4 linked regions of the Homo sapiens genome follow. The protein of the gene in region 1 purifies or fractionates together with the protein of each later gene. This does not show direct contact. Each region holds a gene or a part of one and is shown on either strand. Other genes may lie near its edges.

Region 1 (3,500 bases):
GCACATGAGACTTTTCAAATGTGCTGAAACACCCTAATGTAAGCCAGATATTGTATCATTCATCACATTTACATTTATGCTAATTTACTTGGTTGTCAAGATTAAGCCACACTAACAGCATGGTGCAACAAATCAAATTGTCTGTGTTTTAACAACTTAAACCCCAATTTAAAAAACCTGGGTAGGCATTACCCAATTTGGCTGAACAGTTTCTTTTACAGACTTCTTAACAAACTATGTTACCTTAGAACTTAATGTTACTTATGAAGGCCAGCATGGAAAAAAAAATGACAGACTAGAAGCATGTATTACCCCAGCAAAGGCAAAGTAATTTTTAAGAAGTTGTTATATGAACAGAATGGAAAGATTATACAGTCTCACTGTTCTTAAATAATTATGTCAAATACATTAATAATCTTAAGTCTGATTTGATATTATATACTCTGGAGAAGAGGTTACTAAATAGCAGCTGAAGGCCATTATCTAGCTTGCAGAAGTGTTTGGGTTGGCCTGCAATGTTTTCTTAATAATTAAATTAGTTGATAGAACTTTAAAAATTGAGAGATAATACATATAAAATCTGAAATCTCTGGCTTTTCCTGATATACCAGAAGATTTGCCTGCATGGGTGCATCATTTCACAAGTCAACAAAGGATTGTAGCAGTGTAGGTTAGTTACTCCCATTAGATGGGGCTACGGCAGTCCAGTTTCTTCTAATTCTCCCCAGTTGTCCGCTCACCCCGTGAGTATTTCAGCTTGTAACCTCTGCTCTAGAGATAGGAGACTTATAAATATCACCTCACATCAACATGTGATATCATAATTGTTAATTTATAAATGGCAGTACTGCTTTGCTTAAATAACTTGATGGCTATGGAACTATGAAATATTTCAGAATTTCTAGTCCAAATTCTATTTTGGATTTAATGGCAGTTAAAGATAGATCTAACTTGGCACTCCCCAAGCCTTTTACTTTGCCATGCTCTCCTTACCTTTTCTGTCTGGCTTGAGGTTCCTATCCACGGGGGGTGGTTCACAGTCTGCAACAGGAACTGGCCTTCTGGGAGGGGTTTTTGGGCTGGACCTGAAGCCCATATGAGCAGGAGGAGGAACTTGCATTCCAAATGAGGAAAAATCAAATGTTCCTGGAGTCATTGGCACATAATTTGCTTCCTGAATTGGTTCTGTAAAACTGCTGGAATGTTGTCGTGGTGGTGAATTGGGATTCATTGGGACGTAATTTTCATCCAGTTCTTCACTTGAAACACTTCCCACTGTCAACACATTTTTGACTTTCTAAAACACATATATATTTCTTTTAATAAACAAAAACTCTTGTCACACATGAAAACACAATTGTAAGTCACACTCATTCATATGGATCTCAGCGTACTTTTATTTCATGATATCACTTAGTCTCATGGCACTAATTATGAAGATTTAGACAATGAAATACACTTGATGATGCCAAGGTCAATTATACTTACAAAGTGGTTATGGAAGCCTTCAAGTGAACTAGATCTATCACTTGGAAATGCTCGTGGAATATCATAGCAGTCTTGAGAACTAGCATCTAAAATAAAGAACAAACTATCAACATTTATTCCCATCTTTGCCAGCTCTCAGGGTCATTGGGATGACCTATTATCTTTCTCTCATTATACATATGCATACACACATGCACACACACAGAATTTTAAAAAGGATGCTCATAGAACTGTGTCTTGAATTGGCATATTAAACCACTAGAAAATGCAGACACTCACTCATATGCTAACCAATACCAATATCTAATTTTGAGTGTGAGTGAATGTCTAAGTCTGGGATAAGATAGGTTATCTAAAGATGAAGAGAAACACCTCTATTTTCTCATCGTTTGCACCACCTTGGGCATAACTTACATCTCACTAACTGATAACCAGGTTATACAGTCACTTCAAGAAAGGAGTTAGATACTGTTATTGAATGGTGAAATAAGTACTGATTTAAGTAATAATCACAGATACATTAAAATCTTGGAGATAGCTGAGGAAAACTCTACCACAAAATACAGAAATTTTAGCACATACTGTTTAGGATATGTGCATTAAAAACTTTAGCTTTCTATTTGTAGGACTTTGAGAATCTCAGAGAATCACCCAGACTCATTTTTTTCTTCTCCTCTCAAGGTCTGTAACTTTTGGATACAGACTCTAGGAGACAGTATAGGAAAGTATACTCACTAGCAATGAGTGAAGTGGGTAGTGATAAGGGGAAAGAAGATTCAGCTCTTTAAACACAAGTAAAAATCAAACAGCATAATGGCTTGACTGGAACAGAATATCACCTGTTAGACACAACATAAAAACTGCTTATATAGGAAGGAAGGAAATAGAGCCCAACAGATGTGACTTAGAAGCGGCCATAATGGCACACAAATACAGGAAAGGGTATGACTCGGAGAGGCTTTGTGGCTGGTCCATTTCCTGCCCTTCTGTCCCAACAGAGGGCCTATCCACCCAGGATTATAGAAAGTGGGAGAGAGAAGGGCACACTTCCTGAGGCAGGAAGGCATTACTAAGGCCATACTTCTTCAGGGGTGAGAAACTCCAACTCTTTTTCCCTTCCAGCAGAGCATGAATGCAATATACCCTTCCAGGTAGCTGTAGAGCTGGAAAAAAATGGACTGTATTTTGTAGCATAGTATATTTAACTACGCTTAAAAGAACAAATATTCAGAAAAATCGATTTTCTATCATTAACCTCTAATAGAGAAGAAGTCAACTAGAGCTGACCTTTTCGCAATTTGTTTAAATCCACAGTGGAAATGGTATTACTACGTGAAGGCGACATCCCTGCTGTAGGGATACAGTAACTACTGTCAGTGTCTGAGGCGGTGCGTGGGATACTACACGTTTCCACAGGAGATCGGTCATGAGCTGGATGTGGTTTCGGTGGCCGAGGTGGAGGAATATCTGGAATAGTGTCTAGCTTTGATGTCTGTCCCAAGGTTCCTTCTGGAAATGTTCGTGGAATCTGATAAGTATTACCAGGTGTTGGAGGAATGTCATAACTAATAGATACATGCCTCATTTGAGTCTCTACACTCGATGTCCCAGATGGGGTATTAAAAACATAGAGTTCTCCATCTGCTTCAGTACTTGATGGAGACACCTTTGGTAAAACATCATGGGAATAACTCCTGGGCAGGTTATAAAGGCTGGAGTCAACTGAAGCAGATGGGGCACGTGAAGGTGGAGAGTCGTATATCATTTGCTGCTGAAAAAAGCCATTCATTCCATGTTTGCTCTGGGAGGAAGCAGGATTTTTATGAGAAGGGACGTTATCATTGCAGTCTGTTTCAGAAGAGGTGGATTTTGCAGAATCAGCATGCGTTCTAAATAAAAATTGTTAATGACAGAATAAACAAGGTGGAGACTAAGAATACATTTTTTATAAACATGTTTATCGCTAAGCAATCAAAAGATAGGGCTTTTCTCATTAGATTTTTTGTGTGATC
Region 2 (3,500 bases), on another chromosome or scaffold:
AAATTGGCTGGGTGCCATGGCTCACGCCTGTACTCTCAACACTTTAGGAGGCTGAGGTGGGCAGATGACCTGAGATCAGGAGCTCAAGACAACCCTGGCCAACGTGGTCAAACCCCATCTCTACTAATAATGCGTAAGTTAGCTGGGCGTGGTGGCGGGCACCTGTAATCCCAGCTACTCCAGAGGCTGAGGCAGGGAGAAATCGCTTGAACCTGGGAGGTGGAGGTTGCAGTGAGCCGAAACTGAGCCACTGCACTCGAGCCTGGGGCAACAGAGCGAGACTCTGTCTCGAAAATAAATAAATAAATAAATAAATAAAAAATGAAGAGCTGTACCTATTCCCAAAACTTTTATAAAGGGAAATCAAACCACTGTAGACATTACTATCTTAGCACTGCTTTTAAATGCTATAAAAATGAACATCCATAACCACAAATTATGTGAAATGCAATAGTTAACCTAACATTGACATAGAAGAGCTGATTTACCCAATGTGTTATTTTTAACTCAATCCCCAACCTTAATTAAAAGAAAAAAGACTTACGATGAGGTCTGGCACCCTGAGCAGTCCAGCGAGGACTTGGTCTTAGTTGAGCAATTTGGCTAGGAGGATAGTATGCAGCACGGTTCTGAGTCTGCAGGGAAAAAAAGCACATGAGTTTATCAGTTGAAGAAAAAAGCAAATAATGCAATAAATTATATGTACTTTTTCAAAACATTTACCAGGACTTCACACTCAAGCATTTTTTCCTACTCAATCATAATTCCCCTTTCTTAATGTTTCACATTTGCGGGGCGAGGGGCACAAAAAACACTAGAAATGACCAAATACGAAAACCTTCATGGTTCTGGTTGCCTTCTAAAACCTACCTGTGGGATAGCTGCCATGAAGTAACCTGAAGGAGGTGCTGGCTGGTAGGGGTTGATTACAGGGTTGGGAACAGCTCGTACACTTGCCATTCTCTGCATATACTGGTTAGTGAGGTGAGCCTGGCGCTCTTCTTTGCGCTGAGCTAAAGCTACATACAATGGCTTTGTGGCCACAATTCTACCGTTCATTTCTGTAACTGCTTTAGTGGCTTCTTCTGGGGAGGAGAAACATACAAAACCAAACCCTTTGCTGCGACCACCCTCCATCATAACCTATTAAAAAAAAGAAAAAAAAAGTTAACGTAATGGTAGAATGAGGAGCAAAAAAAGAGCGTTACAATTTAGACAATTATAAATCACTGAATCAAATAACTAAACCCTGTTAATGCTTAATCATCTTGTATTTACCCATTGAGTTCACAATTTTTCCTTAATACCCAATTATTAAGGGCAAACTACACATATGCATTACCCTAGCCAGGTCAGAGAACTGACAGAAGTGAAGGCTGCACAGAAACTTTTAAAGATTTTAGATACTGAATTTGATTGGATTTTCAATATTGAAATTTAATTATCTAAATAAATACATCCCAGGCCTACTAAATTGACTTTTGGGCACCACTGGAAGCATTTCCCAATTAAATTTTGACTATTCTAACAATTCAAGCTGACAAGATGCTTCACTATGCCTTTGAGAAAAAAGTAGTTGAATCTTACAATACCCACATCTTAAAATAAAAGTTTTTACATTCAAGAGCAGAGGATCCATAAATATTACGGTATAAAGAACACTCAAGAGGAAGGTTCTTCTAAAATTGATTGCAAAGACCTTTTAAATGAGCAATGAAGACTTGCAAAGAACCACTCGCTAGGCCAGCAATATATATAAGCATGCTATAAAACTACATTAACAGTATGCGAGTGGCATAGGAACAAACGGTAATAAAACAGAGGCCAGAAATATACCCAAGCAATTATGGGAATTCACTGTGCTAAAGTTAACATTTTAAAGTACTGGGGAAAAAGGACTTTGGGCTACTCAATACATGACACACTGGGACAAATGAAAAAATGTAGAACTCTTAATTCACATTACATTGAAAAATCTTAAATGCCAGGTAGATTCTGAATCTGAACATAGAATGTAGAAATAGAGAGAAAACCTTTCTAAGATGACACACACACAAAGTGAGGTCTATAAAGTGGAAAATTCGAAGAAAATATTTCCAATATAAAACAAATGTTTGGCCGGGCGCGGTGGCTCACGCCTGTAATCCTAGCACTTTGGGAGGCCAAGGCGGGTGGATCACCTGAAGTCAGGAGTTCGAGACCAGCCTGGCCAACGTGGCGAAACCCCGTCTTTACTAAAAATACAAAAATTAGCCGGGCATGGTGGCAGGTGCATATAATCCCAGCTACTCGGGAAGCTGAGACAGGAAAACTGCTTGAACCCAGGGGGTGGAAGTTGCAGTGAACTGAGATCACACCACTTCACTCCATCTCAAAAAAATAAAACAAATGTTCCCTTAATCAATAAAAAGACAGACAACCAGCCAGGCACGGTGGCTCACGCCTGTAATCCCAACACTTTAGGAGGTCACCTGAGGTCAGGAGTTGGAAGACCAGCTTGGCCAACATGGTGAAACCCCATCTCTACTAAAAATACCAAAAATTAGCTGGGCGTAGTGGCACATGCCTGTAATCCCAGCTACCCAGGAGGCTGAGGCAGGAGAATCGCTTGAACCCGGGAGGCGGAGGCTGCAGTGAGCTGAGATTGCACCACCGCACTCCAGCCCAGGCGAGAGTGAGACTCGTCTTTAAAAAAGACAAAAAAAAAACACCTCATAAGTTTAAGAATTTGTGTTGCACTGCATTAAAAGCATTCTTGGGCCGCATGTGGCCTGCAAGCAGCGGGTTGGACAAGCTTGGCTTAAGCCCAGGAAAGGCTGAGGCTGCAGTGAGCTGTGATTGTGGCATGCCCCTGCACTCCAACCTGGGCAACATAATGAGATCCTGTCTCAAGAAACAGAAAAACATGCATGCTTCATACATTCAAAATATGCTGATGCACAACACTCAATTTAAACAATATCCAGGGAACACACTGAAGACAAAAACATTCAGGAATAAATTCTATCGTACTCCAATACTCTTACATAAAAAGCATAATCTGAAACACAAGACAACCATGGCACTTCCATCTTACTTGTATTCAACCACCTTTCCCCTAACATTTCCTCACTCTCACAGAAGCTTCCTCGGACTTGCCAGGAAAAGCTGACTAGAAAGATCAGCCACAGCGTCATTCCAGTTCAGTTGAGTTGTAATTTTTTTCTATGCACTCTTCCCCAACCCCAGCAAAATTATGTATGCACAAAACCTTGCATATAGGGGGACTCTTGGCCCACGGATGCTAGACAAAAACATCTAGAAGAGAACTTCTTAAATCAAGATTTCAGAATTTGTACTAGAATACTACTGCTTTGTTTCTTAATCTCTGATTTCAAATAAAAGAAAATATGATCTCTATTCTTACTGCTAGGGGGCAGGGGAGGGAACTGGGGCTTGACTACCCAGAATGAATTGTAGAAATGAATAAACAGATCAGAACTATAGTAACAATTATAAGT
Region 3 (3,500 bases), on another chromosome or scaffold:
GAAGAATTTATGGTATTGCCTACAAAGAAGTTGATGAACCGGTCCTTTACAGATGAAAGGACTTTGGCTCCCAGGGCGCTCACCACACAGTCAGGACACTGGCTGGGCTCTTCTATCTGTGGGGAGAATATGCAGTGAACCTCCGACTGTATGTCAGCAGTATGATTGTGGGGAAAGACATGTCGCTGGCAGGTCCCTCTGTTGACGCTGCCACAGCTAATGAGTTGATCATCATAGTAGGTGTCGACAACTAGAGCCATGTTGATGTTATCTTTCCAAACACCTCCTGATAAATTGGCTTTGCTGCTGCAGTCCTGACATGGGAAACAATCTGGGTGTTCCAGCACAGGCCCAGTCTTGTACTCAGCAACCTTCTGAAGGTCTTCCTCATTTAAAACATAAATGTAGTTAGTGGCACCAAGGAAAATGTGATGCTCATGTAGAATGACATTCTGGATGGGTGTTTCCGCGGTGAAGTTGGGAAGCTGATACTTCATATTCACATTCATCTCGGACTTTGCTAGTGCCTCTTTACACTCCCCATTGCTCCTCTGCACCAAGGTAAACAGGAGCACGAGGATGCCAGGTGCAAGCACAGCGGGGGCCTTCATTATGAGAGGTTTATCTGCCAAAACAGGTTCAAGGCGAGAGCAGTTCAGTTGTCAGAAATGAAGAGAAAACTGAAAGACCTATACCATTTAATCTATCAGAAATAAAGCTTCCCAACTGGACTTTTACATAGAAGGAAAACAAAAACTCTAGCAAGTTTCACATAAAGATGCATTGTGCGGTTGGACATGACTCCACATAGTTTAATTTTAGAACTCAAGCCATGAACGAATAATTTTAGAGAACCATTGAGATGCAAACAATGTTCTGTATTAAGGTTGATACAGTAACTAAGTTAGACTCATTCAGCAATGAAAGAAAAAACATAGCAACTTTCTTTCTTAACCCCTTGCTGGTTGTTTAACGTGGTTTAATAACTGTGGTTAATGACTAGGTTGATATTTAAACTTTCTCTGTTAGTCAAGTAAAGGAACTGTGGTTCACATTCATTTATTCTAGAAATCACAGCAGGCATTGTTTTCTTGAGCGCATGTAGAATTACTAGGCTAAATTTAGCTTCCTTTTGGAAGAAAACAATCATAAATTCTAGAAGCAATATGATCACATGCTGTTTATAGGATTTTGTGTGGAGAGGAATGGTATGGTTATAATTTGGCTATAGTTAACCTATTGTTTTAGACAGACAAATGTTTAATGTAAGATCACTGGGAACTGAAAAACAGGAGGCTGAAAATGTATAAAATACAACATAATCTTCAGAACTAAAGTCCTAGAACTACTTCTCAGGGAAAAACAACATATTGTTCATTACCAAGTCAAAAAGCTATTTAGTAAAAAGAACATTATTTTAACATTTCATTGTATGCATATAGACAGTATTTCTATGAGGAAACATGAATGGGCCTGTTATTCAGTATTTAAAACTTAAGGTGCACAAGTTATAAACATTGTGAGTTCTCCTTATAATAGTTATAGGCAGGGTAGTAGGTTGGAAAGGAGAGGCCTTAGAATGAATATAAACTAAATAGGTATGACTTTTTTTTAAATAGCATAATTCTGATAGGACAAAGGGAGCCTCTAAAAACATACTAGGCATCATGACTGCCAAAGACTAACCCTGGATCTACAAAAACCACATCAGAAATCACTGAGCAGCTGGTATGTGCAGGGCACTGTGCTTGCGCTATGAGAAATGGGACATAGCCCCTGCCCTTCAGTGAAGCTGCAATGTGGCTGAGTGATAACACATATATGCTGATTATTGTGGCACTGCAAATGGTATTACAATACCCTGCATAGCACAAACCAAAAGCTACAAGTATCAAGGGAAAAAAGCACAGCCTGTACTTAGGATTATTATGATCATGAGCAATAGAGACAAGTTCACCATGTTGTGAGGTCCAGGAGAGCAAGGACAAGGTCTGCTTGGCTCATCATTGTATCCCAAGTACCTAGTACAGAGCCTGAGATGCAGAAGGTGTTAAACAAATAGATACTGAATAAATGATGAATAAAAATTAAGCCGAAATTCGAAGTTACATAATGGTTAAGTGTAGTAGCCAAAATTTGCGTCCAAAATTTTTTGACTCCAAATCAAAAATAATTTTACCCTACTAATAGTCTAAGAATTGGGGACTTTAAGAGGTGATTAATAATCATTAAGGAATTTTGAGCTAGACCGTCATACAATGAAGGTTTTACTCTAGGAAGATTGATCTGGAGGCAGGGTGGCTTAGAACAGAGAGATCCTGGCAATGGAAAGACCAGTTGACAGGCTATTTTTATATCCCATAATGAGGTAACAAGAGCCAGAACAAATATGGTAGCACCAAGGATAGAAGGAATGAATAAGGGACATATTTGAATAAGTAGGATTTGATACCCTAATATATCAAACACAGTGCAAAAAAGAAAGCAAAGACAAACAAAGATGATTAGCAGTTATCTGGAAAAAGTAGAACAAGTTATAAAACTAGGGTAGACTGCACTGGGAAGTTAGGCTGAATATATGGGAATGGTAGATTGGTTTTAACCACGTTGAGTCGGGTGTGCTGCTGGGAAATGAGTGCATATTCTCCTATAAGGATGACTAGCAGGTTTTACATTATTCACCAGGAAGCAGGTGCCTGGAACAAGTGAAGAATGAAAACTCTGGGCAGACAGAGCATTAGTGCCAAAGAACAGAGGCGGAAATGAGAAGGATTCTGAGAAGCCTGCCTTGACTGGGAAAGCGGCATGATCAGTCTTGGGTGAAACAGTATCTGTCTTGAGTGAGACACATGAGTGTCAGGTATTTGCCACTGCTGCACTAGAAGGAATAAAAATTTAGAACTTGATTGGCAGAGTAACAGAGACTCCACTCCGACTAGAAATAAACTTTGCACATTATCTGCACAGAGGTGATGGTTAAAACCAGGAATGGGTGTGTTCATGAATGGACTAGATGAAAGAAGAGAAGGCAAATGGCCTAAATCTTAGGGGATACCCACAGTTGAGAAATCTATGCAGGAGTCAAGGAAGGTTAAGGTCAGTGAGGCATCAAGAGAGCAAATATTGCACTGTGTCACAAAAGCCAAGTGAGGGTCTCAAGGAGGACGTTGGTCCACATGGAACCCGTTTGTTGATCTTCAAGGCAGTAGTTTCTATAGTAGTATCAGATGTTAAATTGAGGGAATGGGTGATGAAGAAGTAGAATGTTTATCAAAGGGAAGACAAGCAAAAAGTAGTAACAGGGTGAAAAGGAGTTTAAATTGTGGGAAAGACATATGATTATTGGCAGGACCCCCCTTTCTTCTACTAACATTTATTGGATGTCTACAAAGACATGATGCCCTTCCCTGGGAAGCTCAAGTCACTTGATGGTTAACAGTTATCAGAATGCAGAGGAAGGGAGACCAACTCGACTGGAAATGATGCTAGAGCCGAGTCTC
Region 4 (4,142 bases), on another chromosome or scaffold:
TTATTTATTTACATCTGCTATTTACAATCATAAACATTCTTATTCACTGCAAATAAACATGGGCAGCCTATCTCCTCCCCTCCACACTGTATGATGGATAATATGGAAATTCAAACCACACATCTTCTTTGCCACAAATCTGTAGTGAAATGACAGCCTTCTATAGACCCTCTGACCCTCAGAGATTTTCTTCCTTTTGGAGACATTTTGAGTATCTTTTTGACCATAATCAACATCTTATCAGGTAGGTCTCTTGTTCTAAGTAGCCGTTTCAAACTCTGAGGGTGTCCAGTGTCTATGAGCTTCCTGCCACTCACAATATTTATACTAGACGTTGCCAGGGGAAGAGAAGAGAGTCCAAAAATATGTCCAAATGCTGCCCTGTGAAGGTTGCTATTTATTTTCACAAACCTCAGGGCTGCATTCAGTTTCCCGTCTACCTGTGTAGGCAGCCATTTCTTCAGTGTATTCCCTATGTTCTAATTGGCTCGCTGTACAGATTCTTGGCTCTGTGCTTAGGAATTGTCATTGACTTTTAACCCACCTCACCTGCTGAGCAGCTTTCTGTGTTTTCATTAGTATTTCAGGCACCGAATCTCATTTTTAAAGTTATTATCAGGATTTTAATTGGTGGTTCTCACTATTCACCCTTAAGTTTAGTAATATTTAAATTTTTATTTTGTTGCATTTAATAAAAGAATCATAAAGAAAGAAAAATAATTAGGGAGAGAAAATAATTTCTTTAGAGGGAAAATGGAGGATTCCTTAGACTGAAGGCTGGTCAGTTAATGGGAATTGTGACTTATGCAGAGGATCTAATAATTGTAAGTATCATGGTTTTACTTGTTTGAATTAATAACTTTAAAAAATCTCAGTCTTGCATTAGCATATTTTCTGTCTCTTAACAACCGAAAATAACTGAAACTTTCCCAACATCTACTAAAATGGAAAGTTTGTCATTTTCTACTATGACCTGAGGGTTTGGCTACAAACAGATAATGGAATGAATAAGATGAGCATTCAAGTTATACCTGCCTGTTTAATATGGGGAGAAACTAAACCACCTGTAAAGAAAGCATGGGGTGAGAAGCCCCCATCACCTGTATAACCCTCGGTATTTCTGTTCACTTTAAGAGCCTGCCACTGAAAACATTCAGTAAAGGAGTGAATCTTCCTTGCCCCATCAAGAGTCGCTTTTCAGCTGGAGGAAGGGTGTGTCCCCAAGTTTTTACCTGGGAGCAATGATGATCTTGTCAAGCATTTCAGTGAGACCAGCCCAAGTTTTTAGGGTGGGGATCCAGACTGGTTATACGTACCTTCAGTCCTTCTCCCAGAGGAAGGCAGAAACACCTCAAAGCCTGCATGTAAGAACATCTACTGAGAAATTATTTTAATCAGACACCAGCTGAGTGGGAGAAAGAAAAAGAACAGAGAAGAACAAACAAAACTCCCTTGGTCTTGGATGTAAGAGAATCCAGCAGAGATGGACTGGAGTTTCTTCAGAGTAGTTGCAATGCTGTTCATTTTTCTGGTGAGTGGATTCTGGTAAAAGTCCTTCATAATCGTGCCCATTGTAAACAAGTGAAAACTTTTTAGAAAATGTTAGTGGGCATTATTTCTAACCTAAACCCATTGAAAATGTATATTAATGACAAGATGATTTTATGAACTAGATTTTTCAATAGCATTTCTCTCTTTAATTGAAGACTCAAGATCATGTTAATGCCTCAGTGTCAACTCATTGTATTACATCTCTGACACTGAAGTCATTGCTAAGTCATGCTGGGAAAAGACTGAATTTAGGAAATTCCTATCGCTAGTTAGTAGCACTTTGTCGTTCAAAATCTCTTCTGCAAGAGGGCTTTTAAACTAAATATCACAAGTGTGTCTGGATTTTTAACCTGTTTTTTTTTTTATTTTTTTTGTGTGTTTGGTGGTGGAATTACTCTAATTTTTAAAACATAAAAATAGCACCACATAATTTAAAATCGTAGCAGTTTGTGGCTGGTCTCGCTATCCAAATAAAGTCATCAGTTGCATATTTGGTTAGAATCTGTATCACTACTATAAAAAGCCCCGCACTATTTAACTATGATTTTATTTAAAACATTTTTAATTTCAAAAAACGGCAGTACAGGAGGTTTATAAATGACATATTAAGTGAAGAAGTGGCTATAATTAAAGAGTAAGTATAATTATTATTACACTCGATCTTACTACTGGAATGTCAGTGATGACTGCGATATAAAAGTTGTGCACTTGATCGTCTGACGAATGTAATGAAATACTTTATCATTGCCCCCTTACATGTAATTAGTTTTCTTGCTGTAGAGATAATACTAAGTGCACCACTAATGTATTATGTCAATTTCACTTTCAGTGAAAATTTGAAAATTGTAATCTCTCTCATAGTAAGGTTAATGTAATTCAAAAAGGCAGGTGCCAAGTAAATTGCCCTCCAGCTTGGCAGGATGTATAGTGCTGTGGTTCACATTTGTTTCTACTTGCTTAATTTTTGAACTGGAATGTTGGGTTGGTTGGTATAATAAGTTAGATCTTTGATTCAAAGTATGCTGGTTAGTTTGAATTCAGTTTTATTAACTAAGGCGGGACATAATCAGTGGATTTAGTTATAAATGAGCATCAGTAAGCTGGTGGCTTTGGTTCCAAGCTTTCCTTCAAACATTAGTCCTATCCCATGCTCTTTTCAGTGGATATTTAGGATCAGTTGATTTCATTACTTAGGATTTGGTAGGGATCACTGATCATTATACAGTATGTCATTTGAAATATGAGAGTTTCATATTGTCAGTAATCAAGCACTTTTACTTAAAATTTCAAATAAATTTGATCCATTAAGAGCTATTATAGTTTTAGTTGATCAGCTTGTTCAGATAGGTGTACACTAACTTTCATAGAATCTCTAAGATGTGCCTTATTTGTTGATTTATTTATTTCAAATTAATTATAGCATATCAAATTTCTTTAAACAGCCACTTCCTATTTAGTCATTCTTCAATAAAATGTATCATCATCAAAATCATATATCTTTATTGAACTTTCTCTAGCTGTGCCTAGATTTTTTTTTGTTGGCTTATGGGGGTTTTTTTGGGAATGGGGGAAGAGGAGGTTACCTTATTTTATATTGAAATTAATCACAAGTCTCCCACATGCCTTATGAAAATTTTTTCTCAAAGAACTTACACTATCATGAATTACAATGTTTCATTTTCACGTTGACATCATAGGTTTTTTTGGAAAACATTTCACTTTCTAAGGTTTGGAAGATCAAAATTTATTTTAAGTACAGATTTTACCACATGGGATAATTTTGGTAATTGTGCTTTGGAGTTTCCTAATCTGTATTTTTCTTTAAAATACTTTTTTTCTTCATAAAACAACCACCACTATAGCAAATTCTTTCAGTTATCTTTCTCCTAGTCTCATTATAAATGCATGCTTTTACCAAAAAATGAAAAAAAATTTATGTAAAGTCTTTATATTCGTCTCTACTCAAAGTCAATAAGCGGGAACCTGCATTAGGAAGCGTATTTGTACAATTGTTAAGGCCTTTAAGATATTTAAATTGGTAGTGTCTTTTAAGCAAATCTACCTGAGAACTGGGTAACTATTTGTTTGCAAGCATACTGTGTATTCATCTCAATGCATCTGAAGGTTGTGAACCTTGTTCAAATGAGTGGGTTGAATCAGGGAGAACAAAGCTGGAGGAGCTGCTCTTACAGCAATCAAGATCGCTCTATGGCTATTCCATTGTTCTGACAAGTCTCCTGGACAGGCAAGAGATTACACCTGCTATAACACTGCAAGTCAAACACATTTTGTTAATTCTGCATCTATTTTTCATTCTTCTTTTTGTTTCCATGTAATCAGTGTATGGAGTAGAGAAAGGAGTTAGAATGTATTTTCTCTAGGCCTGAGAACAATGCTTCTTATGCACCAAATAAAAGAAATCTATGTGCATGTATATGACAATGGTAAAAAGTACAGCATGGTCACTGTGGGAAAGCAAAACAGAGCCAGAGGGATCTCTATGGTTTTAATGATTTCTGAAAATTACTTGCAACTTTGCCAGGTCCAATTAGTCCATTTAAGTCAATACAAATCTGAAGATGTCTTTTTCT

The links.
Region 2: the proteins of GAB1 (region 1) and PABPC1 purify together in Homo sapiens (affinity purification with mass spectrometry; one large-scale study listed by BioGRID and IntAct). This does not show direct contact.
Region 3: the proteins of GAB1 (region 1) and MET purify together in Homo sapiens (affinity purification with western blotting; 3 studies listed by BioGRID and IntAct, with this or other methods). This does not show direct contact.
Region 4: the proteins of GAB1 (region 1) and DSG1 purify together in Homo sapiens (affinity purification with mass spectrometry; one large-scale study listed by BioGRID and IntAct). This does not show direct contact.

The regions. Positions count from the first base shown.
Region 1 is NC_000004.12:143,437,876-143,441,375, reverse strand, and holds part of GAB1 (GRB2-associated-binding protein 1), read right to left. Parts: intron 3,378-3,500; coding exon 2,776-3,377; intron 1,575-2,775; coding exon 1,489-1,574; intron 1,298-1,488; coding exon 994-1,297; intron 1-993. UniProt on the Homo sapiens protein: Adapter protein that plays a role in intracellular signaling cascades triggered by activated receptor-type kinases. Plays a role in FGFR1 signaling. Probably involved in signaling by the epidermal growth factor receptor (EGFR) and the insulin receptor (INSR).
Region 2 is NC_000008.11:100,708,589-100,712,088, forward strand, and holds part of PABPC1 (polyadenylate-binding protein 1), read right to left. Parts: intron 1,144-3,500; coding exon 871-1,143; intron 636-870; coding exon 545-635; intron 1-544. UniProt on the Homo sapiens protein: Binds the poly(A) tail of mRNA, including that of its own transcript, and regulates processes of mRNA metabolism such as pre-mRNA splicing and mRNA stability.
Region 3 is NC_000007.14:116,696,196-116,699,695, reverse strand, and holds part of MET (hepatocyte growth factor receptor isoform b preproprotein), read right to left. Parts: intron 626-3,500; coding exon of another isoform or gene 612-625; coding exon 1-611. UniProt on the Homo sapiens protein: Receptor tyrosine kinase that transduces signals from the extracellular matrix into the cytoplasm by binding to hepatocyte growth factor/HGF ligand. Regulates many physiological processes including proliferation, scattering, morphogenesis and survival.
Region 4 is NC_000018.10:31,316,818-31,320,959, forward strand, and holds the start of DSG1 (desmoglein-1 preproprotein), read left to right. Parts: upstream 1-1,342; 5' UTR 1,343-1,483; coding exon 1,484-1,531; intron 1,532-4,142. UniProt on the Homo sapiens protein: Component of intercellular desmosome junctions. Involved in the interaction of plaque proteins and intermediate filaments mediating cell-cell adhesion.